Linked DNA regions of Homo sapiens. Each later gene encodes a partner of the first gene's protein in a complex. Each region holds a gene or a part of one and is shown on either strand. Other genes may lie near its edges. The genes, in order: EXOSC1, EXOSC7, EXOSC6 and EXOSC9.

What was found.
Region 2: EXOSC1 (region 1) and EXOSC7 share a complex: the UniProt entries of both Homo sapiens proteins name them as parts of the RNA exosome core complex.
Region 3: EXOSC1 (region 1) and EXOSC6 share a complex: the UniProt entries of both Homo sapiens proteins name them as parts of the RNA exosome core complex.
Region 4: EXOSC1 (region 1) and EXOSC9 share a complex: the UniProt entries of both Homo sapiens proteins name them as parts of the RNA exosome core complex.

The regions. Positions count from the first base shown.
Region 1 is NC_000010.11:97,442,443-97,451,793, reverse strand, and holds the start of EXOSC1 (exosome complex component CSL4), read left to right. Parts: upstream 1-5,787; 5' UTR 5,788-5,808; coding exon 5,809-5,839; intron 5,840-5,946; coding exon 5,947-6,062; exon of another isoform or gene 6,063-6,299; coding exon of another isoform or gene 6,300-6,341; intron 6,342-8,482; coding exon 8,483-8,557; intron 8,558-9,351. Other genes in the region: palmitoyltransferase ZDHHC16, read right to left, coding at 1-118. UniProt on the Homo sapiens protein: Non-catalytic component of the RNA exosome complex which has 3'->5' exoribonuclease activity and participates in a multitude of cellular RNA processing and degradation events.
Region 2 is NC_000003.12:44,985,286-44,993,636, forward strand, and holds part of EXOSC7 (exosome complex component RRP42), read left to right. Parts: intron 1-3,854; coding exon 3,855-3,956; intron 3,957-4,264; coding exon 4,265-4,359; intron 4,360-8,351. UniProt on the Homo sapiens protein: Non-catalytic component of the RNA exosome complex which has 3'->5' exoribonuclease activity and participates in a multitude of cellular RNA processing and degradation events.
Region 3 is NC_000016.10:70,245,820-70,249,974, forward strand, and holds the end of EXOSC6 (exosome complex component MTR3), read right to left. Parts: 3' UTR 959-4,155; downstream 1-958. UniProt on the Homo sapiens protein: Non-catalytic component of the RNA exosome complex which has 3'->5' exoribonuclease activity and participates in a multitude of cellular RNA processing and degradation events.
Region 4 is NC_000004.12:121,795,563-121,804,322, forward strand, and holds the start of EXOSC9 (exosome complex component RRP45), read left to right. Parts: upstream 1-5,760; 5' UTR 5,761-5,862; coding exon 5,863-5,928; intron 5,929-6,264; coding exon 6,265-6,359; intron 6,360-7,111; coding exon 7,112-7,231; intron 7,232-7,352; coding exon 7,353-7,455; intron 7,456-8,760. UniProt on the Homo sapiens protein: Non-catalytic component of the RNA exosome complex which has 3'->5' exoribonuclease activity and participates in a multitude of cellular RNA processing and degradation events.

The DNA.
Region 1 (9,351 bases):
GCCAGCGCTGTACTAGACCCCGGAGTAGAGGTGGACAGCGGCGCCTGTAACCCAGCAGCAGAAGGAGGCGGAGGCAGAGGCGGGCCGGGCCCAGCAGCAGGCTCCGCTGGCCTCGCATGGTTCCTACGAGAGCACACCATTGTGAGGATCTAGTCTGAGCCCTCCCTCCCTACCCCGCTAGTGGGAAGGCCTAGAGTACTCACTTGGAGGGCAAAGACCTAAGACTAAGACCCAGCTAGGCCAGTCACCAACTGTGAGAAGTAGGAAGGTTACTTCACTTTTCTACGGACTGACCAGTGCCAATGTTCCAACCAGATTAAGGGAGTAAAACTGATGGTTCTGAGCCTGCAGAAATTGTACTTAAATTACACCACATGGTTGCATAGCAAATCCAAGGTGATGCACACCTAAAGCAACAGGCCACAGGAAAGGGGTGAGAAAGGCCACTCCAAATCAAAGCAGTCTTAGGAGTTGTCTGTGTAGACAGACTTTTGGGTGGAGTGTGGCCAACATGGACAAAGCTGTCCACTGTGTCTCTGGGCATGGCCACTGTAGCAGAGATTGCCAGGGCTTCCTGACTGCCCTAGTGCATCAACCTACCTTCAGATGATTATTCCTCACCAAAGAACAGCCAATGGAAGAATGAGTACACAGAATGTGGATCCTGTACCGAGGTATTTCCTGGTGCTATTTAAGTCTTGGCAAAAGATACTCTTCTTCCTACTCCCTCTGGGCTGATGTCACAGGCTAGCCAACTCAACCTGGTAGCAGGAGATTCCCTGTCTCCTGTCAGGACAGCCAGCTACCCCTTGCATGACAGAAAATGCTTTGTCTCCAATTCCATTCCCAGCCCCACCCCAAGGAAATGGTAGCCAAGACAACTCCAGGTATTCTGAGCAGAACACAGGAAGGAGTCAATGGGAGGGGACCTCCATGTTGATTCATGAAGGCCTCGGGTCCTGACCTCTCTGATGGACTCCACTGCCCCAGTCTAATTAGACATTTAAGAACCTTCTCTGCAGCTGCTGCCTTAGCCCCAAGATACCCAACCAGACTTCCCAGTTCACTGCTTCTATGGCACCTCTGCCAGTGCCTCCATCTCCTCTATGCAGTTTCTACCTCATGCAACAGCCATGGGAAGAGATCGGCTGCCTGGGCAATGACCAGAACAGAAGACACAGATGCGCTAACAGATTCCTTCGATGACAGTTTCATCAGTTCTGCAGATTAAAGACTTTCACCAGAAAAAAAAATTACCTGATTTTGCCCTGAGGCAGCCAGGGAGGGCTTTGTCCTTGACAATCCCACTGACTTATTTAACAGGTAGCTCAAAACCCAACAGAAACTGGAGGAGGCTGCTCCACTGCAGGGATGGTTTCAATTCGGTAACTGGAGTATTGTACTCTCCTTGCACCCTGGCTCATCCCCACAAAAGACCTTTCAAAGAAAACACTTAATTACCTCCTTGCACAAGCCCTGTAAGCCCTAAGGTGAAAAGAAACTCAGCAGACAAGGTCCACAGAGAAGGAGAAGGCACAATTCAGTAGGGACCTACGCTCAGCACCAGGATAAAGAAACTGTCCATTCCTGCCACCTCCTAGGAAGCTAAAAGAATTAAGGGGAGGCCGGGCACGGTGGCTCACGCCTGTAATCCCAGCACTTTGGGAGGCCGAGGCGGGTGGATCATGAGGTCAGGAGATCGAGACCATCCTGGCTAACAAGGTGAAACCCCGTCTCTACTAAAAATACAAAAAATTAGCCGGGCGCGGTGGCGGGCGCCTGTAGTCCCAGCTACTCGGGAGGCTGAGGCAGGAGAATGGCGTGAACCCGGGAAGCGGAGCTTGCAGTGAGCCGAGATTGCGCCACTGCAGTCCGCAGTCCGGCCTGGGCGACAGAGCGAGACTCCGTCTCAAAAAAAAAAAAAAAAAAAAAGAATTAAGGGGAGTGTAGAAAAGAGAAAAAAAGGCCGGGCGCAGTGGCTCACGCCTGTACTCCCAACACTTTGGGAAGCCGAGGCAGGCGGATCACTTGAGGTCAGGAGTTTGAGACCAGCCTGGCCAACGTGGTGAAACACTGTCTCTACTGGAAATGCAAAAAAATAGCTGGGCATGGTGGCGCGTGCCTGTAATCCCTGCTACTTGGGAGCCTGAGGCAGGAGAATCGCTGAAACCCGGGAGGTGGAGGTTGCAGTGAGCCAAGATCGCGCCAGTGCACTCCAGCCTGGGAGACAGAGTGAGACTCCACCTCAAAAAAAATTAAAAGCTCACGCTCAAACTTCCACCCCTATTGTTTGGAAGCATGATTTGGCTTGTAGCATGAATTTTTAAAATAGTAGACACCCACAATCAAATGTAAGAGTGGGACAAAACAGATTACCCCACAACAAATCTAGGTGGCTTTTGGACTGTCCACACTGCTGTTCATTCCCTTTCTATAGGTCATGGAGAGTTTCCTATTTGCCAAAATACTTTTTGTAGCAATGGCATGCAAATCCAATGCACTCCTTGTTTGTAATAAACTCGAATTATATACTACCTCACACCTCTTCTAGTCTTAAAAAAAAAAAAAACTTCTATTCTCCACTTTTCAGATCATTCTTAAACATGTCCTAAATTCTTCAGCGCTGCAGGAAATGTCTGCCTCAAAGACCAGATTTACCCAATTCTTTAGGGTTCAATTCTGTCCCTAAGCAGTTCCGTAACCTCAGACAAATCATTCAACTCTACTGGGACTCAATCTCCTTGTGTTCACATTCAGTGAGGGAGTAGGATTAAATGCTAAGGTCCCTTCCAGCTCTAACCTTTTATGATTCTGTAACTATACAGATACAGTCAACCCCCATATCTGCGGAGGGATTGGTTCCAGTCCTCCCTTCAGATACCAAAATCCATGGATGCTCAAATCTGATATAAAATGGCATAGTGTTTGCATATAACCTATACGTATCTTCCCATATACTTTAAATCATTTCTAGATTACTCATAATACCTAATACAAAGTAAATGCTACACATAAACACTTTTTTTGTTTGTTTTTGAGATGAAGTCTCGCTCTGTTGCCCAGGCTGTAGTGCAGTGGCAAGATCTCGGCTCACTGCAACCTCCGCCTTCTGGGTTCAAGCAATTCTCCCTGCCTCAGCCTCCCAAGTAGCTGGGATTACAGGCACCTGCCACCTCGCCCAGCAAATGTTTGTATTTTTAGTAGAGACGGGGTTTCGCAATGTTGGCCAGGCTGGTCTTGAACTCCTGACCTCAGGTGATCTGTCTGCCTTGGCCTCCCAAAGTGCTGGGATTACAGGTGTGAGCGAACCACCATGCCCAGCTGCCCCCAAATATTTCCAATCCATGGTTGGATTGGATCAGCAATGTGAAACCCACAGGTATGAAGAGCAAACTTCTTTGGTAAGTGTAAATGAAATGTTTATAAAGCACTTAGCACAATACCCGGCTCATGGAAGTACTCAATAAATATTTGTTGAATGAATGACCTGGAGGGATGCAGAAGTGGAAAGCCTGGCCAGATGTCTATCTGTCCTACAAATACCAGCAAGGACACTCCTGCCAATGTGGTAACACTAAATAAGTGTCTGCTGTTATCATTCTTCCTGATTCATAAAGAGAGAAATACAAACTGTTATTAAAATCATGGCACTTAGGAGCTAGAAGTCGTTTTTGAAAACAAGCCCAACCAGAAATCAGCCCAACCGTGTAAACAGAAAGCTCCTAGACGCACAGATACAGATTTGGGTGAACAAAGTCTGAGGCTAGGGCCTCTCTCCATTAGCTAATGGGGTATGGGATGCCAGGAAAATTACATATGTAGTAAGTGGGCCGCAACTGAACACACAGACTTTTCTTTTTTTTTTTTTTTGAGATGGAGTTTCACTCTTGTTGCCCAGGCTGGAGTGCAATGGCACAATCTGGGCTCACCACAACCTCCGCCTCCTGGGTTCAAGCAATTCTCCTGCCTCAGCCTCCTGAGTGGCTGGGATTCCAGGCATGTGCCACCACGCCTGGCTAATTTTGTATTTTTTTAGTAGAGACCGGGTTTCTCCATGTTGGTCAGGCTGGTCTCAAACTCCCGACCTCAGGTGATGTGCTTGCCTCAGCCTCCCAAAGTGCTGGGATTGCAGGCGTGAGCCACCGCACCTGGCCCAGACTTTTCATCTCAAGAAATAGAAGTAAAGCAAAATTCAAAAAGATGTGTGTAGGGGAGAAGGGGCTAATCTCAGTGAACGGGAGGAAACAGAGCAAAGCGCAGCTTTACTACCACCCCAAGCACAAGCCCGAGTACTCTGATCCTTCAGTAATAGTCACAGGCCATACTGGTCATCTGCCACCAGACTGGAGGAGATTGCTGGCCACAACACTCCCCTCTTCCCATGGCTTTAAGTCACATCTGTTTCCCAATGGGAAAGTCGACTGAGGGGACAGGGAAGGACAGACGGCAAAGCCATCAGAAGTCAGGTGAACTGAGATCAAAGTCGTGGCGAATGTCATCTGGACAAAGACGCTGCTCTCAGGATGTTTGCAATCTCAAGTAGGAGATACCCAACATCAATAAAGAGTAGCATTTTATTCATGTGCAGACCTCCCTTCTGGGCTAACACGCTGAGAAGAAAAAGAGTAACAACTTTATTTTGGGGCTGCTTATCTTTTGATGACGGGCCCACACAACCAGAGTTCGGCTTTTTCAACCAGAGAAAGCTTACTGAAGTGGGGATGAGGGGCCGCGAAGAGGATCGGACCGCAGGACTGGAAGCTGCAGTTTAAAAAACCGGGAAAAGGCCGGAGGCAGTGGCTCATGCCTGTACTCCCTGCACTTTGGAAGGCCGAGGCGGGCGGATCAAGAGATCAAGACCATCCTGGCTAACATGGTGAAACCCCGTCACTACTAAAACTACAAAAATTAGCTGGGCGTGGTGGCGCGCGCCTGTAAGTCCCAGCTGCGCGGGAGGCTGAGGCAGGAGAATCGCTTGATGCCGGGAGGCGGAGGTTGCAGTGAACAGAGATCGCTCCACTGCACTCCAGCCTGGCGACAGAGCGAGACTCCTCAAAAACAAAACAAAAAAACCGGGAAAAGGTTTTATTTCTCAATGACAGCCGCGAGGTGAAACTGCGATGGACTGGAAGTCAAAAACCGTGGGTTCCAGTTTGGGCTCTATCTTAACTATCTTGATCATTTTGGACAAGTCAAACCCTGTCTCTGAATCTGAGGTTCCATATCTGTGAAACAGACGAGTTGGGTCGCTTGACCTCCTTCCCTCCTGCTCTGAGCGTAACGATTGCTCGGAAGGTGCGCTCGGGCTGAGGAGGGCACGGCCCCGCAGGGCGGGGCGAGGAGAGAGCAGGAACCCGCACTCAAGACAAGGCCCCAGGGCAGTGCCCTACCCAGAAAAAGGGACTAGGATGGGGAGCAAGGGCCGAGGCTTCGCCCTTACCTGCCGCCTGCCGACTCCCCAGTCAGCCAAACCGAGCCCCGTAGCCTCTGCCGCCGCTCACTGCCACCCCCTCCGACTCGGCGCCCCGGCCGGGCCCGGCTCAATCCAAACCACCATGGCCCGCCGCCCGCAGCGCCAGGCAGCGGACCCGGACCCGCCGCCAGCCCATCCTCAACCACACGCGCAGGCGCCAGCGTGGACCTCTGAAGTTCCGCCCCCGGATTTGTCCCGGGGTAACCTGGGAAATGGAGTTTACTCGCAAGGATAAAGAGTACCAATTGACACGTGTCTTACTGCGGAACTGTGCCTGGGTTTGGCCAATGAGAAATCGACTTCGTTTTCATCCTGGTTTTGGGACAGCGGCAATCATGGCGCCACCTGTGAGATACTGCATCCCCGGTAAGTGAGCGCTTCCCGTACAGAGTCCTGGATAGGGGCTGAAGCAAGAAGGCTAAACGGCCTACAGCTTCTGGGGGCCCGTGACCGATGCAGCATTTTTTCTGCAGGCGAACGTCTGTGTAACTTGGAGGAGGGCAGCCCGGGCAGCGGCACCTACACCCGCCACGGCTACATCTTTTCGTCGCTTGCCGGCTGTCTGATGAAGAGCAGCGAGAATGGCGCGGTAAAGGAAGCGGCATGCCATCTCCCCTCTGTTTTTCCCTTAGGCTGCCCTTGAGTTCCAGTCCTTAGGCATGGGCACTGCGGACGCGTCTTTAGTGCCTCAGTGGTACAATGTTGGTCTCTTAGTTTCTTCTAGCCGTATCGCCGCTGTGGTGCACTTAGCCACCACACACTAGTTGTGTTGATCTCGCTTGGTTGTGCTGCTGACCCTCGGGGAGGGAAGTTGGGACAAAAGCAGATGCGAACTCAGTATCCCATCCCAGCCCAGCTCAGCCCAGCAGTGAGTTGCATACTGTATGAATGTTGCTTACCTTTCCGACTTTATCTAGCGCCACTATCTCCACCTCACTGACGCAATCTAGTCATACTGTCTTTTCTGTGTTTAAAAGTTATAATCACAGTCTCTGCTTGCCCTTTAAAAATTTTTTATAACATACTAGCTTCTTTCAGTGTCGGTAATGCGCCAAGCTTTCTCCTGCTACAGAGCCTTTGTAACATGCCATCTATCTGGAACGCTTCTATCTTCCTAGGCCTATTTAATTCCTACCTCCTTTAGATAGCTTCTCTACTATCACCTCAGAGAAGTCCTTCTGGACCCACTAATTGAGGAAAGGAGTTTTGTGGGGTGTTTTGTTTTTGTTTGTTTTGTTAAAGACTCACAAAAAACTCTGTTCCTTTTCTTCCAAGCACTATGTCAGCATATGATGAGACACTCAGGTATATGTTTCCTACTAGACTTCTCCCCTGCTTAAATCTAAGTCCGTGAAAGCAGGCCCTACCACCATACCATCCGTATATAGCACAAGGCAGCTCCTCAATAAATGTTGAATGTGTGAGTAATACCTACCTTTCTAGTTTCAGAGATAGATCCAGGATTAGCTCAGGATCATATAAGCAATATTTGAAGGAGCACAATAGAAAGAGGATTCAGAATTAGAACAGTTACGTTCTGGCTAACTTGACTTTGATTCTGCTTTGAGTAAGTAACTTAAGCTGTCTGATTCAAGGGGCTTTCTATTCAGTCATTGTTGGGAATGTTCTTAACAGTCCTGAGTTTGTTCATTTCATAGATATCACTTGAGTATTTTCATGTGTCAGGCACAGCGCTGACTTGGTTTCTGCTATCAAAGGACACAGACACAAATTGTAAACAAATAAATGCTCAAATGAGCATATGGTTACATATGTGGTGGTGCTTTGAAAGAATATTACAGGGCACCTTGAGAACATGTAACAGGCAAACCCATCCTAGTCAGCAGAAGTGACATTTAAGCTGAATCATCTAAAGAGTAGGTAAGAGTCAGGTGGGTGGAGAGAGTGCAGCTCTGGCAGAAAGAATAGGTTGAAGAGAGATCTGAAAGTGGGAAGAATTTAGTAAGTTGGGGAAACTGAAAGAAGGCCAGGAGAGCTGAAGCATTGTGAGCAACGGAGAGATTGATAAAAGATGAGGCTCAAAATATCTGTCTTATACCAACAGCCAATACCATGCTCAAAGAGAAAACTCTGCAAGTATTCACTTAAAATAGAAGAAAACAAGCATAGCCGCTATTATGTAACATTTTTGTGGAAATTTCAGCCTGTGCAATAAAATAAGAAACAGAAGGAAGCAGTATAACTTTGGAGGAAAGAGTAAATTGTCGGCAGGGCGCAGTGGCTCACACCTGTAATCCCAGCACTTTGGGAAGCCAAGGCAGGTGGATCACCTGAGGTCAGGAGTTCGAGACCAGCCTGGCCAACATGGTGAAACCCCATCTCTACTAAAAATACAAAAAATTACCCGAGCATGGTGACAGGCTTCTGTAATCCCAGCTACTCGGGAGGCTGAGGCAGGAGAATCACTTGAACCCAGGAGGTGGAGGTTGCAGTGAACCAAGATGGCACCCTTGCACTCCATCCTAGGCAACAAGAGTGAAACTCCATTTCAAAAAAAAACAAAAAAAGTAAAATTGTCAATGATTATAGGCAATATAGTTGTATACCAAGAAATTCTGAGAGAATCACCAAAAAACTTATTAGAAGTTTAGAGATTTACTACAAAAAAAAGTAGCTGGGCATGGTGGCGGGTGCCTGTAGTCCCAGCTACTCGGGAGGCTGAGGCAGGAGAATGGCGTGAACCCGGGAAGTGGACCTTGCAGTGAGCCGAGATCGTGCCACTGCACTCCAGTCTAGGCGACAGAGCAAGACTCCGTCTCCAACAACAAAAAAAGAAGTTTAGAGATGTATGTCTTCTAGCAGCATTCTGTAGCCTCCTGGTCCTCCTATTTCCTAAAATTTCTAAGGCCTTCTGCTCTGGGCTATAAATGAATCCATACTCCAACTCTCACCTTTATACCAAGACATTCCTATATTACTCTCAAGCCACAAATGCCTTGACCCAAGGGTTAGTCAGGACATTTCAGTTTTTTGTTGTTCCCTCTGTAGCTTCCAGTGGTGTCTGTAGTGAGAGAAACAGAGTCCCAGTTACTGCCAGATGTGGGAGCTATTGTAACCTGTAAGGTAAGTTGGTCCTGACCTCCATGCTTAGAATGCCCATTCAATACTGAAATCATGACCATACCAGAACTGCAGTGTCCAGTATGATAGCCACAAGCTACATAAATTTATTTCTGGCAGGGCACAGTGGCTCACACTGGTAATTCTAGCACTTTAAGAGGCCGAGGCAGGAGGATTGCTTCAGCCCAGAGTTCAAGACCAGCCTGGGAAACATAGTGAAACCTCATCTCTACAAAAAGAATCAAAAATTGCCGGGCATGGTGGCTCATGCTTGTAATCCCAGCACTTTGGGAGGCCGAGGTGGGCAGATCACCTGTGGTCAGGAGTTCAAGACCAGCCTGGCCAATCATGGCCAACATGGTGAAACCCTGTCTCTACCAAAAATACAAAAATTAGCTTAGCGTGGTGGTGCATGCCTGTAATCCCAGCTACTCGGGAGGCTGAGGCAGGAGAAGTGCTTGAACCCAGGAGGTGGAGGTTGCAGTGAGCCTGCGTCACAGCAGTCCAGCCTGGGCAACAGAGTGAGACTCCGTCTCAAAAAAAAAGAAGAAGAAGAATAAAAAATTAGCCAGGCATGGTAGCACATGCTTGTGGTCCCAACTACTTGGGAGGCTGAAGCAGGAAGATCGCTTGGGCCCAGGGGGTTGAGGCTGCAGTGAGCCATGATCACTCCAGCTTGGGTAACAGGGCAAGACTCTGTCTCTCAAGAAAAAAATAAAATTGATTTCCTTAGTCACATTAGCCACATTTCAAGTACTCAATAGCCACTTGTGGCTAGTGGTTGCTATACTGGTCAG
Region 2 (8,351 bases), on another chromosome or scaffold:
TTTTTGAATCCATCTCCAGACTCAAGATAGGGATATTGTGTCTGGAATTGGTGGGTTCTTGGTCTCACTGATTTCAAGAATGAAGCTGCAGACCCTCGCGGTGAGTGTTACAGTTCTTAAAGGCGGCGTGTCCGGAGTTGTTCCTTCTGATGTTCAGATGTGCTCGGAGTTTCTTCCTTCTGGTGGGTTCGTGGTCTCGCTGGCTCAGGAGTGAAGCTGCAGACCTTCATGGTGAGTGTTACAGCTCTTAAGGCGGCACACCTGGAGTTGTTCATTCCTCCCGAGGTGGGTTCGTGGTCTCGCTGGCTTCAGGAGTGAAGCTGCAGACCTTCGCGGTGAGTGTTACAGCTCATAAAGGCAGTGTGGACCCAAAGAGTGAGCAGTAGCAAGATTTATTGCAAAGAGCGAAAGAACAAAGCTTCCACAGTGTGGAAGGGGACCCAAGCGGGTTGCCACTGCTGGCTCTGGCAGCTTGCTTTTATTCTCTTATCTGGCCCCACCCACATTCTGCTGATTGGTCCATTTTACAGAGAGCCGAGTGGTCTGTTAGACAGGGTGCTGATTGGTGCGTTTACAATCCCTGAGCTAGACACAAAGGTTCTCCACCTCCCCAGTAGATTAGCTAGATACAGAGTGTAGACACAAAGGTTCTCCAAGTCCCCACCAGAGTAGCTAGATACAGAGTGCTGATTGGTGTATTTACAATCTCTTAGCTAGACATAGAGGTTCTCCAAGTCCCCATCAGACTCAGGAGCCCGGCTGGCTTCAACCAGTGGATCCTGCACTGGGGCCGCAGGTGGAGCTGCCTGCCAGTCCCCTGCCATGCACCCGCATTCCTCAGCCCTTGGGTGGTCGATGGGACTGGGCGCCGTGGAGCAGGGGGCAGCGCTCCTTGGGGAGGTTGGGGCCACACAGGAGCACCCATGGGTGGGGGTGGGAGGGCGGGGAGGCTCCCGCATGGCAGGCTGCAGATCCGGAGCCCTGCCCCGTGGGAAGGCAGCTAAGGCCCAGCAAGAAATTGAGCACAGCAGCTGCTGGCCCAGGTGCTAAGCCCCTCACTGCCTGGGGCCAGCTGGCTGCTCCAGAGTATGGGGCCCGCCTAGCCCACACCCACCCGCTGAGCCCATGCCCACCCAGAACTCGCGCTGGCCCGCAAGCACTGCCCGCAGCCCTGGTTCCCACCCACGCCTCTCCCTCCACACCTCCCAGCAAGCTGAGGGAGCCGGCTCCCACCTTGGCCAGCCCAGAAAGGGGCTCCCGCAGTGCAGCGGCGGGCTGAAGGGCTCCTCAAGTGCTGCCAAAGTGGGAGCCCAGGCAGAGGAGGTGCCGAGAGCAAGCGAGGGCTGTGAGGGCTGCCAGCACGCTGTCACCTCTCAATATCTTCCAGGGAGGAAAGGTGCTGGGGGAAGGATGGGCTGCACAGGACCTTCCACCTGATTTGTGATGTTTATTTTCTGTCATTGAAAAGTTAAACGGGTGAAAGACCTGAAGCAAGTATGGCAGAGGGTGATCATTGGTACTGTGTGGTGCTGCAGTGTTTTGCTTTTTTCTGTTTAATTTCTCAAAAAAGTCAGTCACATATGCAGTTAGCCAGGCAGTTTAAAGATAAACTGTCAGTCACATACTTTAGAGCAGTGTTTTATTTTATTTTTTATGTTTCTGGGAAGCATCAACTCCTTGGAGAATCTGATTAAGCTAATGATTCTTTTTCTGAAAAAAACTGCTTTTGAAAAATGTTTACAAAGAATGAGAAGGAGCTCCATGAGCCAACGTGGAATGATTTCCTGCATATATATAGTTAAGTGTTAAAAAAAAAAAAAAAAGTAAGAGTATCTATAGTATTCCACCCTTCATATAAGAAACAAGGAGATATTAAAAAATTCATGTATTTGCTTATTTGTGCAGAGAAAATACAAGAAAGATAAACCTGAAACTGAAGAGAAACCTAGGGTGAATGGGAAGAAAGGGGCATGAAAATAGCATAATACGGAGGAGAGTGACATTTCTCTGAGCATACTTTTCTGAGTTTTCTCTCAGAACTATAGTGATAGCTCACAAACTCAGAAAGTAAATAAGTAATTAAAAGTAACCATGATGTGGGGGAACCCAAAATGGAAAACAAAAATTTACAAATGAAAATTAGCCAGGCATGGTGATGTGCCTGTAATTCCAGCTACTTCAGAGGCTGAGGCGGGAGAAGCGCTTGAACGCAGGTGGCGGAGGTTGCAGTGAGCTGTGCCACACTGCACTCCAGCCTGGGCGACAGAGCCATAGTCTAAAAAAAAAGTTACAAGTTACAAATGAGCCTGTGTTACAAGTGAGTAATGTAACCACACTGAAGGGCACGTAGAAGAAAAGAACTGAAGTAACTGGAAAACAGTATTTTGCCTGGATACTCTGAGGCTAAAGACAGAACTTTACACAAATACTGTGTGCTATTAGTAAATTTGTTTCTCACAGGGGTATGGGTTAGAAGTTCAGAAACTGTGTATACTAAGATTGAACAAATACAGAAATACATGTTAGATAATAAGAGCCAGCTTTCTCCTTCTTTGAGAAAGAAGTTACAAATAAGAAACAGAGGAAGGTTAGAATGAACCATGTGATGTTAGATTGGAATTGATCTATCAGTATGAACTCTTGGCTTTTTAATAGATATGTAGATAGATACAGAATTAAACAGATTTGTGTGTGTGTGGTGGGGGTGGTTAGTATACATAACTGTATTTTCTAGCTCTGTCTGCTGAGAAGTTCTGGAAGAAATAATACTCCAACAGCAATGAACTTAGAGCCTAGTTCCTGGTTTTAAGTACCATTCCCCAATAAAAGCAACCAGGGCTCCTTGGAGAAAGGCTTGATCCCTAGGGCTGGGCAGAGAAGACACAAGAGGATAGATATCTTGTGTTGCAGAAAGTAGATAATTACTCAAAAAGTTGGAGGCATGTTGAAAGAGCACAAAAACTAACCCAAAGAAGCCCCCAGTGGCCAAATTTGGAACACTTTGAGCAGCAAAATAACTAATGATAGTAGTGGATTATAACCATAGCATAAAAGATACCAATGAGTTGTACTGATACAAGTAATTGAAGGAGTAAATAAATGGGCAGAAGGAACAGGCAGCGCGTAGACCACCCTGAAAACCATCTTCTGCCAAAAGAGTCAGCAAACTTCCTGTAAAGGACTGGATAGTAAAGATTTGGGGCCTTATGGGTCATATCTCTGGCCCAACCACTCAGCTCTGCTTTTGTAGTGCAGAAACAATCATAGACATTACCTAAACAAGTGGGCATGGCTATGTTCCAGTAAAACTTATTTACAAAAACAAGGGACCTTAGTTTGTTGACCCTGTTCTAGAGACTGCCTCTTTAGAAGATTAGGTGTCTTTCACTATTTACACAGTAGATCTTGTTGAGTTTTAGGGGTAGGAGGGCTTCAGTTGAGATGATTGTACTCTGTAGCTCTGACAACATATACTTCTTGGTGCAATTTAAGAATTGCAGATTTAGAGAGAGGTGGCTTATTTTGTCTCTTGTTCAGATCTTGTTTTTGTGTGCATATTCTATATAGTGGTATGTAGTATAGATTTTGCAATCAGACACAACTGGCATGGAAAACTAGCTTTGTTTTCACTAGCTGTAGGACCTTGGACAAGTCGCTCAACTTCTCTGAGTCTCCATTTCCTCATATGTAAAATAGTAATGTTGTTGTTAGCTACAAGGACAGAATTTTAGATGATCCACTAAGAGGAAAAGAGATATTCTGCATATATCTTCTCTAGGGGGAAAATGGGTGAGTCCGTTTAGGAGTTATTGTTGATCTGGGGTGACTATAGGACTGTGGTTGTTAACACCTAGGAAGACCTCCGTGTGGATGGCCGTGGCTGTGAGGACTACCGATGTGTCGAAGTGGAAACTGATGTGGTGTCCAACACTAGTGGGTCCGCCAGGGTCAAGCTGGTGAGTACTGTGACCATGGTTCAAGCCCAGGTGGAGAAATGAGTAGGCCCTAAGGAATGAGCTGCTGACGCTGTCTGGCTTTTGGAATGCAAATTGCTCTTGGGGAAATCGAAGATCCGAGCCAAACTCAGGGAGGGGGGGTCTATCCAGATCTGAAAAGACTGCTCACCTCCTCCAAAGACCACTTTCCAAGTCTTAGCACTGCTCCTAAAAGAGTCCCCCAGGGGTGTATGTCCAGAAGAGGAGGGAGGTGGTGGAGTACCTGGCTGCATACTCTGAGTGAGGACTCTTCTTGCATGTGTCTGCAGGGTCACACAGACATCTTGGTGGGAGTGAAAGCAGAAATGGGGACGCCGAAGCTGGAGAAACCAAATGAAGGCTACTTGGAGTTCTTTGTTGACTGGTCAGTACTGTCTATGCAGATATTTCTAAAGATAAATGATTTTAAAGATGAAGATTCAGAAAATGAACCTCTGGTTTGCTGTTGAACCCACTTTTATACTTATCATTCAGCCATCCAGCAGGCATTTGCTGACCTCCTCCTATGTGCCAGGTACATAGTCAGGACTCTTGGCTTGAGTCCTGCCCTAGTCTTAACCACCTGGCTATTGCTGGCCTTGTTTTCCCTGTCCGATAAAGGAGGACATTTGCCAGGCAGCCTAGCACATGATTGTGATGAGGGTCAAATGAAATGATTGTGTTATGGTGCTTTGAAAAATATACACAGTAAGGATCATTTGGTCTAAAATGTGCTGTTTCTCTTCCTACTCTAGTTCTGCAGAAAACTGTTCATGATTTGCTTGACAGATGAAGCCTAGGGTCAGCCAAGCAGCCTGACAGGCTGAGGAAGTGGCAGCTAGGCAGGCAGTATGGGTGCTGAGAAGAGAGAGGGCTCTGCAGTGTCTGCAGCCAGCCTTGGGCCAGAATGTCACTTCCTTCTCTGGCCAGCTTTGTGATCTCAGGCTGGTTACTCAGTCTCACTGTGGCCAAATTTCTTCATCTAAAAAATGAGGATAATAAATAATACCATGGTGATGAAGAGGAAATGAATAGAGTGAGTACCTAGCACAGTGACTGACTTCCAGTGGGCTTTCAATAAGTGTTATTTCTCCTTATTTTGTCAATAAGTTCAATAAGTATTATTAGCTCCACATTCTAGGGGTCGGGGCTTTTTATTTGGTTGCTGGCCAGGTCCCGTCTTCTATCAATTACTTTGCTTCTGGAAGCCAGGCCTTCTTGAAGTGGGTAAGGATCTCTGTGGGCTCATGCTGGGTGTAGGTATATAATGTTGACCCTGTATCAAGATCCCCAAGACCACCTCCACATTCAGAGATTTGCTAGACTTAGCATATAGTGATACTCACAGCTAAGGTTTATTACAGCAGTGAAAATGCAGTAACTTATTTGTGACATTTCTGCCCAGGAAAGCCCATTAGAGACTCAGCACCCAAGATTTTTACTGGGAGCTGGTCACATAGACACTCGATGCTTAATACATAATGAAGTTTTCTAAAGGAAAGCAAATGTTCAGCATAAATCATATTATTTGCACAATATAGGCACAGTGGACTACCCCCATCAGTTTACTATTGCCTGGGAGCCAGGTTCCCGGATGCCAGCCAAGGGCCAACCCTGCAAACAGACCCTTCTGAAAATAGCACCTTTGGACTGCAATGGCAGCCCTTTTTTGCACAAATGTTAACCCACTTTTGTAGGGTGAGTTACAGTCTTCCAGTCTGAACTTCCATACACGGAAGCTGATTCTCATAGTACTCGTATAAGAGAAATGACAAATGAGTTCAGAGAGAGTAAGTGACTACCCCAGGGTTACAAAGCTAAAAATGCCAGCTCAGGTCTGTCCAACCTGTGAATCTTTGCTCATTTTACTTCATGCAGCCTATGGAAGCCAGCTTTGGAGGGCTGCTCTTGGGGAGTCCAAGAACTATCCATGTTCATTTTTCTGGTCAGTTTTTTTTCCAGCCCATTCCTGTCCCCTACTCTGGTCCCCCAAGTCGTCTCTCCTGGTTCTGCTCATCTTCTCTCACCAGCCTGAGTTGTCCCATGGAATTGGCCCATCCTTTAAGTCACTGTGGATGATGGTGACCTTGTTCAAGCCCCCAACTTATCTTTTCCTTTGTTCTTGGAGGAAGCAGAATGCCTCTGGTGGCCTTGATCTGCCTAATTCAATGCAGTAAGCAGTCACTGAGGAGCAGACAATGTGTGAGGAACTGTAATTTGCTTTCTTTTTCATCTCCTTCATTACCTTCTACCTCATTCATTTTAGGCAGACCAAAGACATTCAGCCCAACCACACCAAAGAGAGGGTGTTGCCCTCAGATGCTTGGTATAGGGGATACGTTTCATTGTGGCTCTGTGTCTAAATATGACTCCAAGTTAGCCTGCTGCTCTTATCCCTTTCTTGTCCCAGCTGTAAAGGATGAGTGACTCTAGTGTGAGAGGATTCTTTGAGTTGCCTCTTCCCAAGATCTGGCTTCTAGAAGTAGCCTATCTTTCCTGGCTTAGAGTGGCTGCCTGCTGGTCTCTTTTCCTCCTCTGTGGGTCTCAAAAGGATCCCCACAGGCCCAAGAGCTCCAGTATCTAGGTAGTTCTCCTGAATTGATTTCTCAAGATGGACAGTCTCAAAGTGGCACACTTTACCTTCTTTAAGTGGCTCAGCTAATGTAATCAGCCGGGCAAGTAGAATCACCATGAGAGAGTCACAAAACCCCATTTCCTACAGAGATGGGAGAGGTTACCAAGCACTGATCGCTGCCACCTGTATCAGAACCTCAATTGAGTCTTCAAGGAGCATAATTATTTTAATTGCATAAACAAGTGTGTCCTTTTATTCTGAATCAGTGAATAGGAATGGCTTCTGGACACCCGTGGATGTGCCCAGCAATAAGGGTGCCACACACCCACTCCCACCTGGACTCCAGGCATAGGGCCTCTGCTGGAGAGCTCAAGGCATTTGCCTATCCACAGGCTGAAACATAGTTGCTGCCCAGTGGAAGGAAATAAATTGGTGGTGATGGTGGTGGTGATGGTGGTGAGGGTTTCTTCTGCTGCTCTGAGTCTAGTTTGATTTAACTTCTTGTTAGCAACTTCCAGTTTTAATTAAATTGCCAGGGGTAGAGAGGTCTCAGAAAACTAATTGATTTTCTGCCAACCCATTTCACTTGGTTTTGTCTACTTGGGATGATAATACATGGAGCCAAGATAGACACTGTCGCCACCTCCATAATTTACCCTGTTTCTTGGGAATGACGAAAAATCTTTGATATAGCCCTCACAGCCCTTTGGAAAGACTGCTGCACTGACCCTGAGCCCTGTTCCAGAGATGCCTGGCAGCACTGTCACTAAACTGGGAGCAAAATCTGACCTTTTCATGTCTTTGGTTTGCTGGTTGTAGCTGAGAGTAGGCTATTTTAAATGAGAATTTGGAAACTTTAGGAAAAGGTGGTTTCTATCTAAAGCCCAAAGGAAGGGAAGATTTTAGTGAGCTGGTGTGTCACCCTGCGCTGCCACTAGGCGGCGAGCCATCAAGTTGCTTCTCAGTTCTCCGACCATTGTGTTGATGGGTTTAGGACTGTGGTTTAACCTCTTAGAGAGGCTTGGGTTTTTAACTAGGGGAGTTTAGGAGAACATTTTTCATTCATAAATGTTTCAGAATACTCCGCACTTGTCACTTCCCTTTGGGATCTTAACTATTTTTCAATGTGAACACTTGTATTTTTCACTAAAATTGAACCAGAATCTTCAAGCCTGCATTGGTGGTTGGAGTCACTATATCTGGGTTCCTTGCCTGCTTAGTGCTGCTAAAGGGGACACTGTTCCTGGCTGAGGGGCTGGGGGTGGGTACAAAGCAGAGAGGCAACCTGCAGAAGCCTTTTGAGGCTAATTGTAATCAAAGTCTCCCAAGCTGATGAGATAACTCTCGCAGACACTTCAAACAAAGGCTTGTGATGAAAACCTCAGAATATACTTACTATTGGTCTGGTACCCATTTACAGGGAGGCTTCTACAGGCTCAGACATGAGCACATGTACACTCAGAGGAATCAGCCTTAGGGCCTGTGTTGGGGCTAGATGACTACTGGAGGGGTAAGGCCCAGGTCAGCCCTGCCTAGGTACCCACTAGATCACTTTTTCTGCTGTGGGCCTGGCCTGACCTGGACGTAAGACTTCATAGATTTGTAGGCTAGATTGATTGCCAGGCAAGCAACAGTGGGCCCAGTGTCTAGAGTCCCTTTCCAGGTAGGCATGGCCTTGATCTCAGCCTACCCCAGTTAAACCAGAGATGTTCCAAGCAGGAGGGTAGAGGTGATGAGTCAGAAGGGGTGGAGAGCTGGGAGGGGTAGCATTCCCAGGATCTTAATTAGTTTATCCAGCTCAG
Region 3 (4,155 bases), on another chromosome or scaffold:
ATTTCTGCAAAAATTAACATGTAAATGTTATTTCCTTACTTTTTCAGTAAATTTCCTATCTATATTGTCACTACACATGACTTAACACTAAAATGCCACAATCTACCATTGGCCTGGCTAATCCCAGGGCCACATCTAACCATTAAAGGTGTATACTTATCTCCTCAGTGAAAATGAAACAGACCACTATCACCTGAATATCCTATTTTCAAAAGTTTATTACACCAAGTAAGTTACGAGAAACTATGACACTTGAAACAAGCTGAAATGTGCAAATGAGCCATGCTAGTCATTCACTTAACTCCAAAAAAATGGGAAACAAAACCATTTCTCATTTATGACAATTCTCCAAATTAACCCTATTTCCTTTTTTAAAAAAATAACCAGAAAAACAATAAAATGTTACAAATAACTTGGATCTTCCATTGTCCACTTCAGGGTATTGCCACTGCAATATATTCTTACCATATACTTTTTCCTACCAGTACAAACTACAAATAACTTGGGTAAGTCCTGTCTGTACTTATTCTACCCACCTACTAGTAATTTCTTCTGAAAATATATATTTAGCTAACAAGTAATGTTCATTTACAATATAACATTTCTCTGAATTAGTTTTCTTGCATTATTAAAGAAATGTTATTGATAGATGGTCACTGGGGGACCACTGCTCCTCCCCGACAGTATTTAAATAACTGGTATAGGCTGCAAGACTTACCAGATACCTGCTGCGTGAGCGAAGGTTTCTGAGTATGATCTATATGCCATCCAACTAATATATCAACTGTATCCTTGATGGAAACAAAGAGAGAGGGGGCCAATCATTTTAAGATATTACTGCCATTCACCTGTGGACCATTCCACAGCAAAAGATCCTAAAAGGAGCATCTATGTTCTACCTACTCAACATTCTAGAAACTTAGAAAGGGGAGAGGGGCAGGAAAATAAAAGAACTACATTTCTGACAACAATGAAATAGTTTATTTTCTTCAAATATTTTAAGGTACGAACGTCAGAAATAAAAATGCAGCATTTAACCCTGGAACCTCAAATATCACTGATTATACTCAAAGGAGCAGAGGCATTGTTTTCCATCTGATTCCTCAGTTCCTCACACACACAACCATCCCCCTCACCCCATGATCTGAAAAGCGAAATGAGGAATTCACCCTAAAATTAGTGTGGAGAAAACAAGCAAATTAGGTTATTTACTAAGTGACTACATAAAAAACTGAGTATGAGACCAAGAAAAATAGATTCTGTAGTTTTAGTTAAAAAAAAAATTGACTTGTAAATCCCAACTACTCGGGAGGCTGAGACACAAGAATCGCTTGAACCCAGGAGGCAGAGGTTGCAGTGAGCTGAGATTGCACCGCTGCACTCCAGCCTGGACAATACAGCCAGACTCCATCTCAAAAAAAAAAATAATTAATAAATAAATAAAATAAATATACTGAAAATATTTCACTCCACTAAGATGTTAAGCTAAAAACAAATACTGTTTTCTCTTCTTCAATGTTTGTTAACATTAGTCCTTAATAACATCTGTTTACAATATCCCTAAATGCTCTCTTTAAGATTCCACCTGTGATTAAATTTCAAATACAAAAAAGTAAAACGGATTTGGGAAACTTTTCTATAAAGTACAGCAATTAATTTGCAATCCAAAATATAAAGCAAATTTTATATAATTTATGCTTTACTATATTAGTACTTGCTTCACATTAAAATTAAAGATCAGTATGGCACCACACATGAATAACATGCAGGCTCAGGTTACCATTATACATAAATTTTTAAAATAAATATATGGCAAAAATAATAATTGTCATTCCATTGAAAGAATATTTATTTTGCAGCTGTTAAAAGACATTTTTCCCTAAAAAAAGAAAAGCTGTGCTTTACATAGCAATCTTATAAAAGAAATGCTAGAATCAGAAAACCATCATTTTAGGCTGGGTGCAGTGGCTCACACCTGTAACCCCAGCACTTTGGGAGGACGAGGCAGGTGGATCACTTGAGGTCAGGAGTTCAAGACCAGTCTGGCCAGCTCGATGAAACTCCGTCTCTACTAAAAATATAAAAATTAGCAGAGCACAGTGGCACCTGCCTGTAATCCCAGCTACTCAGGAGGGTGAAGCATGAGAACTGCTTGAACCTGGGAGGCGGAGGTTGCAGTGAGCCGAGATTGTGCCACTGCCCTCCAGCTTGGACAATAGAGCAAGATTTCGTCTCAAAAAAAAAGAGAAAAAGAAAACCATTATTTTGCAATAGCCAATGTTATAATCTACACAGGCACAGACTATCAATGCTAAAAATCATTTAAAAGACATCTTAGGGGTAATTACAGAAATTTGAATATAGAACACATATGTAATAAAATTCATTTTCTTAGGTATGATTACAATATTCTTGTTATACAGAAGAAAAACCTTATTCTTGGGAGATGCAAACTAAAACATTATGGGTTGAACTGTCATCATGTGTATGGTTTTCAGATGCTCAACAAAAGTGTGTGAGAAAATAAAACTGGCAAAATATTAGTAACTGGTAAATCTAGGTGAAGCATATTATTATGAAATTATTATCGTATTTACAGGTATTTATTTTACTGGTGCATCTATCTTTCTATGAATGTGAGAATTTTCACAAGAGCTGGGAAAATGTTCATAATTATGCATGCAGAATAAGCCCAAGCTGGTGGCATTCTGTTCAGTTACAGGTAATTTTCTGAATCTTCCCTCAAATTTTTCTCAAACCTCTATAATCAAGGGGAAAAATGTTTTGTTTTGCTTTGCTTTTTTGAGATAGGGTTGCCTATAATGGAGTGCAGTAGCTTGACCATAGCTCACTGTAGCTTCAACCTCCCAGGCACAAGCGATCCTCCTGCCTCAGCCTTCAAGTAGCTGGGACTACAGGTGCATACCACCATGCCTGACTTATTTTTTTTCCTTTTTTTTTTTTTTTTTTTTTTTTGATAGAAACAGGGTTTCACCTTGTTGCCCAGGCTGGTCTCAAACTCCTGGACTCAGGCGATTCACCAGCCTCAGCCTCCCACAGTGCTGGGGTTACAGGAGTGAGCCACCATGCCCAGTTAAAAATACACTTTTTATTTAAAAAAAAAAGAGAACACTCCTTATATTTCCTTTATATTTTGTAAACTACATACCCAAAATAAAGCATATCAAAAACTGTAAAAAAAAAAAAAAAAAACCCTAATATCAGATATTCCAGACACAACAATACCATAATTTAATCACTTAAAATCTTACTCAAAACTAAATCAATGATCTTTTAGGCCAGGTGTGGTGGCTCATGATAGTAATCACAGTACTTTGGGAGGCCAAGGCAGGAGGATCACTTGAGGTCAGGAGTTCAAGACCAGCATGGCCAACACAATGAAAATCCATCTCTACTAAAAATACAAAAATTAGCCAGGCTAATGGCACACTCCTGTAATACCAGCTACTTAGGAGGCTGAGGCAGGAGAATCGCTTGAACCTGGGAGGCAGAGGTTGCAGTGAGCCGAGATCATGCCACTGCACTCCAGGCTGGACAACAGAGCAAGACTCCGCATCAAAAAAAAAAAAAAGATATTTTAATATATTCAGATACACAAATATGAAATAAAACTAAGTAGAGCTGGTATTCATTTACACATAATTATCTTATACCGTTTGGAATAAGAATTTGGGGCACGTTAGCAAACCAAAAGGCTCAGAAAGACGTCGTGATATTTAGTTCTTGTCTCCCTCTACAAATGTGAAGCACTCTTCTATCCGGCATTCCTAGTGGAGTTCCTATTTTCAAATTTGCAAATCATTCTGGTGCTAAGCAATCTCAAAAAAAACATTTACTAAAAACCAGAGGAAAAAAATCTTATAACTTTGGGAGGCTGAGGCAGATGGATCACTGAGATCAGGAGTTTGAGACCAGCTTGGCCAACATGATGAAACCCCATCTTCTCTAAAAATACAAAAAGTTAGCTGGGTGTGGTGGCAGGTGCCTGTAGTCCCAGCTATTCCAGAGGCTGAGGCAGGAGAATCACTTGAACCTCTGAGGCGGAGGTTGCAGTGAGCTGAGATCGCGCCATTGCACTCCAGCCTGGGCAACAGAGTGAGACTCTGTCTCAAAAAATAAATATAAAAAAATAAA
Region 4 (8,760 bases), on another chromosome or scaffold:
GACTGTCATTACAAGACTTACTACTGTCACTACTTGAGACTGTCATTACGAGACTGAACGAAAACGGACGCATGCAGAAATGAAAACTTAAAACAAAAGAAACTGTTTTAAAGGAAGGGACCAGGGGAAAAAGAAGAGGGCTCCTTGCTTCTAGTGAGCAAAGGCAGCAGCCCCTGAGCTTCTGCAGCCCTTCGTATTTATCGGGTAGAAAGAGCAGGGAGAAGGAGGTAACAATTGGTCAGCTGCTTGATTGATCACAGGTTCACGTTATTGCTAACAGGCTTCACATGTGCCTAACCACAAGAAACACCTGTGCCTGGGTTGTGACTCCCCTCAGCATTCCTTCTGGGCGGCAGATGCAGTTTGTCAGTTTGCCAACATCCTGCTTTCATGAGAAACAGTTTGCTGTTTACTCATATAGCCTTCAGTTGTATGCTGAGTTGATCATGACCCTCATTCTTTTGGCCTTCAACATATGCCCTGCCAAAAGGATTCAAATATTGTTAAAACTCTTTGAGAGAAAAACAAAACACAGCTTGCTAGCCTGTTTAGTTCCTCTCTCATAACCTCTATCACCCTCAATCCATCCAAATAAACTCTCATTCTAAGTAAACGCAGTGTGATTACCAAGCAAATGCAGCCTTCTGAGTTCTTCAGTCCCTTTCGGCCAGATTACTGATCCTAAACTCTTCCTATTTATAAATTCCAAAAGGTCTACTGAACAGAAATCATCTTTATCCAAACTCTTGCCACTTTTAAATGTGATCCACTGCCCAGCAGCATCAGCATCACCAGAGAGCCAGTTAAAAATGCAAATTTCCAGGTCTCTCTCTCCTGCCTCCTTCTTGGGCTCACCCAGCTAATCCAGGATAACCTCCCCATTTGAAAACCCATAACTTAATCACTGCTGCAAAATAACTTTTGCCATATAAGGCAACATATTCACAGTTTCCAGAGATTGGAATGTGGAAATCTTTAAAAGAGGCCATTGTTTTGCTTACTATACAACACTATAAGTTATTTACATGACAATTAGTTTAATTCACAATAGCAAATTCCACTTATTTTATTTGTAGAAAACTAAGTGACAACTTTTCTAGATCATATTTATTGCTTAGACATTAAACAATATAATTTCCTACAGATTTCTATCGATGAGCATGAATCTTCTTTTAATAGATGAGAACAAATCCAAGGGCATCAGTGATGTGTCCAAGATAGAGCCATATGCATAATCTAAGTGAAATGAAAATGTCCCTTCCCTGAATTATCTTCTAATTTGTTGTATTTTTGATAAGCTGAAAATGGATAATTTTTTATTCCTCTAAATACATTGTAAAGCCTTAATAATAATAATATAGCTTCCTGGACATAACAAATGATATAATCAGAGTCAAAGGAAAAGCTCTTTTCAATATCCAAGGAAGCTAGAGATGGACTGGATAATCTAATGGACTTAAAAATCTATAATTCCCATAAAACATATGCGAGGGAAATTTGCACTACATTTTTTTTTTTTGAGACGAAGTCTCACTCTGTAGCCGAGGCTGGAGTGCAGTGGCGCGATCTCGGCTCACTGCAAGCTCCGCCTCCCGGGTTCACGCCATTCTCCTGCCTCAGCATCCTGAGTAGCTGGGACTACAGGCACCTGCCACTACGCCCGGCTAATTTTTTTCGTATTTTTAGTAGAGATGGGATTTCACCATGTTAGCCAGGATGGTCTCAATCTCCTGACCTTGTGATCCACTCGCCTCAGCCTCCCAAAGTGCTAGGATTACAGGCGTGAGCCACCGCGCCAGGCCTGCACTATATTTGACATATTCAGTTGTCAATACATAAAATCTTTTCAACATATTAACTGATAAGTGGTTTCCCGTTTGAATCTTGAAAAAAAACAAAACAAATGTCTTTGTTAAAATGTAGTTGAAAGTCAAAATTCCCTTAAATAAAAAAATTAGCTAAGTATGGCCAAACAATAAAAAGAAAACATAACACCTTTTTACTTTTTACTTTTTCTGATAATAAAAGCTATTCACATGCCTTACAGAAGATTTGGAAAGTTCATAAAGAAAAAATAGCAAAATGAAATAAAAACCTTTTCCCAAAATCCTATCACTCAGAGATAACCATTTTTAATATTTCATATTATACCCTTCCAGGATAACTTTTGGTACACCAAATTCTATACAGACAAATTGTACAGCAGATATATGGTAAATAAAATGGTAAGCTTTCATTTGTTCACTCATCCACCCATTTTTTTCTTTTTTTTGAGATGGAGTCTCACTCTGTCATCCAGGCTGGAGTGCAGTGGCACAATCTCAGCTCACTGCAACCTCTGCCTCCCAGGTTCAAGTGATTCTCCAGCCTCAGCCTCCCGAGTAGCTGGGATTACAGGTGTGGGCCACCATGCCTGGCTAATTTTTGTATTTTTAGTAGAGACAGGGTTTCACCATGTTGGTCAGGCTGGTCTCGAACTCCTGAACTCAAGTGATCTGCCCACCTTGACCTCCCAAAGTACTGAGATTACAGGCATGAGCCACTGTGCCCAGCCTTTTTTTATTTTTGAGATGGATTCTTGCTCTATTGTTCAGGCTGGAGTGCAGTGGTACAATCTCAGTTCACTGCAACCTCCATCTTTTGGGTTCAAGCGATTCTCCAGCCTCAGCCTCCTGAGTAGCTGCGATTACAGGTGTGTGCCACCATGCCCAGCTAATTTTTGTATTTTTAGTGGAGACGGGGGTTTCACCATGTTGGCCAGGCTGGTCTCAAACTCCTGACCTCAAGTGATCTGGCTGCTTTGGCCTCCTAAAGTGCTGGGATTACAGGCGTGAGCCACCGCACCTGGCCTCCACCCATTAATTCTTTCACCAGATGTGCTAAGTAGGCCATTCATCCTTTGATTCACAAGGTACACTACCAGTCTCAGTGGGTGCTACAAAGGTGAAGAAGACATAGACTTTATACTCTAGTAGAAATGTACTAGAATTCCTTCGGACACACTTTTACAAAGACCAACTCAAATGTATTGGCTCACTAGAATCGCATGGGGTCAGGAAAGGGCATTTCTCCAAGAAATAGAAGGCTGCTGGTCAGACAAAGCAACTGATGTTCAATAAAGAGAATGCACACTCAAATAGTTTGTTGAGAACTAGGTTATTTTTAGACAGATCATCCAGATTAATATGCTGATTCCAACTGATTCTTCTTTTAAGAACAGAAGGTGAGGCCAGGTGCGGTGGCTCACTCCTGTAATCCCAGCACTTTGGGAGGCCAAGGTGGGCGAATCACCTGAAATCAGGAGTTTGAAACCAGCCGGACCAACATGGTGAAACCCCATCTCTACTAAAAATACAAAAATTAGCCAGGCGTTGTGGTGCATGCCTGTAGTCCCAGCTACTTGGGAGGCTGAGGCAGGAGAATTACTTTAACCTGGGAGGTGGAGGTTGCAGTGAGCCAAGATCATGCCACTGCACTCCAGCCTGGGTGACAGAGTGAGACTCTCTCAAAAAAGAAAAAAAAAATAATAGAATGTATCACATTACCTGACACATTATCTGAACCTCTTCTTAACCTTCCAAACTTATTTTTCCCTGAAATCATGAAACAAATTTTCCTTTGGCATTCAAAAATTTCTTATAAACACAAGGTTGTAAAGTACATATATTTTAGGATGGTATGTAGATGTAAGTGGAGATGGGTCATACACCTTTGGATTAACTCGAAAATAAAAAGACAAAAGCAAGAGTGTTTAAATTAGAATATAAAAGTGAAAGTAGAAAAGAACAGTGGAAATTCAACAAAAGTGGAAGGAAAGCAAAGTAATCAAGCAGCAGTTTCAGAAAAGCAATCTGTCATGCTGAGTTTGGGCAGTTTCATGGGAAGCCTTTGCCAACCCAACAAGAAAGGAGGAAACTAACATTTGAATAGCTATCATGTCCAAAATGTTTCATCAGATGCTTTCATTCAGACCACTTAACACAGAATAATTGTTATTTCCAATCTGAAGATACAGAACCCCCAAATCAGAAAGAATATTTAGCTCACTCCAAGTTCATTTGAGCTGAACTTTATCTGAAGCCAAAGTCCATTCTCTTTCCATTACCAAGCTGCCTTGCAGTAAATAACAGGCTATTTCAACAAAGGTCTATTTCATCGCTGAAGGGAAAAATTACCAAATGGCCACTGAAAGAACTCAAGGATTTAAATGAAGAACTTATCAACCAGGAGTTCTGGTATGAAACTGTACTATAAAAATGAATTCATGTTGCTAAAGAACTTAAGTGGTTAGTACCCTGTAATCCCCTTGCCGATTTTGAAAATTAATCATTTCTGTCCACTTTCCTCCTTCTTCACAATTTCTCTCTCCAGACCATGTGGAGCTCATCTCATCTCAGTTTTTGCATATGTTACTCTTTCTGCTTGAAACACTTTTCCTCTCCAGATGGCATCAAGGGTGCTCCTGCTCAACACCAAAGATTTACTTTACTTTAATGTCACCGCTACAAAGTCACCTGTTCCTGCAACTACCCCTATTAAGATAGCATTCCTATTCTCAGAGAGCACTTAACACTGTATGAAATTGTTCTATTTGTTTAGGGTTTTTTGCCTTTTCCAAAAAGAATATAAATTCCTTGAAAGGATCTTGTCTACCCTGTTTCTCCAGCACTTAAATTATTCTTGGACAGAGTAGGCCCTCTTCAAGTATTTATTGAGTACATGGATTGCAAGTGGTACAAAGTGAGACTAAAATGTATCACTGGTAGAAAAAACTTGTGAGAAGCTACCAAAGAAGCCAGAGAAAGACTGCGTAGGAGTTACAGTGCCTACCACCTCTAAAGCAAAAGGAAACAAAATAATAATATGCAAACACTTAAATAGTGCTTATTCCATGCCAGGCACTGTTCTAAACATTTTATGTATATATTAACTCATTTTTATTCCTCAGAATAAATAGGTTTCTCACTTCCCCTGCTTTGTTTTTGTTTTTGTTTTTTTTTTGCCGGTGAGTAATGTGAAGCACACAGGTTAACTTGCCCAGGGTTATAGTAGTTAATGATAGCCTTAAAATTTGAACCCTGGCAGTGAACACTTTTTAAAACTACTATTTGATACTGCCTCTCCAAAAAAGCTGAGTGGTTGGCAGCATGGCCCCGCTAAGGCTTCTCTGTGACCGTAAAAAAAAGTCTATCGACTTAAAATAACTGGAGAGGGGATAAGAAATAAACGGTGCATTTACTTTCAGTCCACAGTAGTAGTAACATCGTTAGTTACTACGTGCGAACATTCTCCATTCTCATCAACTTCTCAGATCCCACAAGATTTCACCTTTGGCCACAAAAACATCCCATTTCACCAATTTATCTTTCTCCCCCAACCCTTATGCCGCCTCATTCCAGTGTTTGTTCATTTAATCTGCTCCAAATCCTGCATCTGCGGCTTTCCAGGGACCAATGTCAACTCATCTGTGAAATTGCAGAAGTACATGTCTAGTCTCCACCCCGTGAGAGGACTGAGCAAAGGGTGAAGTGTGCGAGCGGTCTACTGATAATAATTTCTATCACTCTCATGGTTATTTTAAGTATCCTTTTCTCCTCTGCACTTTATGAGAAAAGAAACGGAACTTCACGTTCAGAAACGGCCTCCCAAAGCCGCAATGGCTTCTCGCAGCTCGCTGGCCTTCCCCAATCACGCTTTGAGTCTGCGCAGTAGCTGCAGCCCAAGCCATTTCCCATTTTTCCGCCGCCGCGCCTTGATGACGTAATTTTCCTGCGCCTCGGGGCGAGCAGCGGCGCGCAAGGAAAGATCGGGTTCCGTTTTTCCCGCGGATTCTGGTGCCTGTGGGGCCGGTGACCCAACACCATGAAGGAAACGCCACTCTCAAACTGCGAACGCCGCTTCCTACTCCGTGCCATCGAAGAGAAGAAGGTATGGTTTGGTGCCCGCAGAATTGCGCGCTGCGTGGGCGCTCGGGTCTCAAGGTGTGGACTGATACCTGGCCCGCCTGGGCCCGGGGAGCTACTAGGGGAACGACCGGCACGTTCACCCCATCCCTCAGGCTTTATTTATTTTTTTTCGACAGGTTCTTTTCAAGGCTCCAGTCACCGCAGCAGTTGTCCATGCTGTAGTTTCCACTTTCCTGTATGGGCGGGCTGGTTAGGATTCCACTTTCCCCCAAGTGCTTAGCCCAGGGCCAGACAAAAAGTAGTTGCTTAAGAAATACTTGTTGAAGGAATAAATTAATGAATGAATTTGTGCTTACAGCGGCTGGATGGCAGACAAACCTATGATTATAGGAACATCAGGATCTCATTTGGAACAGATTACGGATGCTGCATTGTGGAACTTGGAAAAACAAGGTAACAGGATTTAAATGAGATACACATTCGGAAGGGAGAAGTTTGAAAAAAGACCTTATTGACTTGGTTGTTTATAAAGCAGCTAAGAAGTCTGGACAGTATTCTTTGTTTAGCTGACAAAAATAAGTATTTTTTTATGCGAGATTTTTTGCTTTTGTGGTCACACTTGAACTTTTTAATCATAAACGTATTTTCTGTCACGTATCACATAGTTCTTTTCTGACTTCTATAAATCGTATAGACAACTAGTAGTGATCATATGGAATTTGTTTCTCACACTAATATAGAGATCTTGAGCATCTTGTCATTAAGTGTACATCCTGCTTTCTTTTTCCTGAGTGACATGAAAATTAGGTTTTCAGATATTCATTTGAAAGTTGTGAGGCTATTTGGTCACATAATGGTGGTGAACTATGCCATGTGAAAACCTTTAAGAAATCTCAGGTTTTCATGCCATCTTGTATCAATAAATACTTGCTTTAGAGGTAAAGGTCACTGATTTTTAAAACAATCTGTGGAATAGTAAACATTGTAATAAGAAGAGAGGTGTTTTTTCTGTCGTGTTTTTAGTTGTACCAATTTATGTTTTATTTCTGTGTATATTATACTTTACATATAATTTTTATCTCCTATGATTTATTTGGCTGAGTATGATATTACTCACATTAAGATTGAAACTTGTTATCTGTTTCAGTTTTTTGTTTTGGAAGGAGAGTCTATTTGGTTAATACTTTGTAACTTTATCTTTGCAGAGTTCTTGGACAGGTTTCCTGTGAACTTGTGTCTCCAAAACTCAATCGGGCAACAGAAGGTATTCTTTTTTTTAACCTTGAACTCTCTCAGATGGCCGCTCCAGCTTTCGAACCTGGCAGGTATTTAAATCTTTTTCTTAAGTTGCTTTAGTCATAGGAGAACCTAACAGCAGTGAGCTTTTGTTTTAATACCTGGTGTTATATTTCATGACATTAGCCCATTCCTATTTTCTCCTTATAGGCAGTCAGATCTCTTGGTGAAGTTGAATCGACTCATGGAAAGATGTCTAAGAAATTCGAAGTGTATAGACACTGAGTCTCTCTGTGTTGTTGCTGGTGAAAAGGTGGGGAATATGCCCATAATTCTTAATCTTAGGATGAATACTGTTGATCATGGATCCCGGTATCTATCCTTTTATTCTCAGAACTTTAGTTAACTCAGTATTGTACTGGTTTGCTTCACTTCAGATGTTCTTGAGTGATACCCTTAGAACTTTGTGCTACCTCTCTCTCTCTGAAGGGACAAAAAGGGTGTCCCTTCAGAGGACACCCTTTTTCTTAAAGGTTTCTAAAAGGTTTTCACCCTTTATCTTAAAAGGGTGAAAATAGCAACTTAGATTTTTGTGTAAAAATATTTTATTCAAAGAACTTGTGGCTTTTTCATATAATCTCTCATTTTCTACATGAGTTCATAGAAGCAGGTAGTTTTCCTTTTTCATGCAGAACTCAAGAACAGATGAAATCCTTCATTTGGATAGGTTTATCGATTTACACAGGGCCACACCATGTCAGTGGCAGGGATAACTTTGAAAATCTTAGTCCCAATAAATTGTGCTGCATTAGGATATTAGAATTTTATTTTATTTTATTTTGTTTTATTTTTTTGAGATAGAGTCTCACTCTGTTGCCCAGGCTGGAGTGCAGTGGTGCAATCTCAGCTCACTGCAACCTCTGCCTCCCCTGTTCAAGCGATTCTCCCACTCAGCTTTCCGAGCAGCTGGAACTACCGGCGCCTGCCACCACGCCCGGCTAATTTTTGTATTTTTAGTAGAGATGGGGTTTCACCAGCAGGCTAGTCTTGAACTCCAGACCTCAAGTGATTCACCTGCCTTGGCCTCCCAAAGTGCTGGGATTACAGGCGTGAGCTACTGTGCCTGGCCAGAATTTGATTCTTGATTAGGGTATTTTGACAAGCATTTTCATCCCAGAGAAGTCATTTAGCTTCCCATATTCCATACCTAAGCATAATACTTCCTATTTGCATTACTTGTAAGGTTATTAAAAATATCACAAAACCTAAAAGTTTAATTTTTTTTAATTTTTGAAAACTTTCATTATTTTCTCTGAGGGACAGGGTGACACTCTCGTCCAGGCCGGAGTACAGTGGTGTCATTATAGCTCACTGTAATCTTAAACTCCTGGGCTCAAGAGATCCTCTCTCCTTAGCCTCCCGAATAGCTAGGACTATAGGCGCGTGCCACTCCACCCAGCTAACTAAAAAACTTTTTTTTTTTTTTTTTTGTAGAGATAGGGTCTTGCTGTGTTGCTCAGGCTGGTCTCGAACTCCTAGGCTAAAGCAGTTCTGCCACCTTGACCTCCCAAAGTGCTGGGATTACAGGTGTAAGCCACTGTGCCTGGCCTAGAGTTTG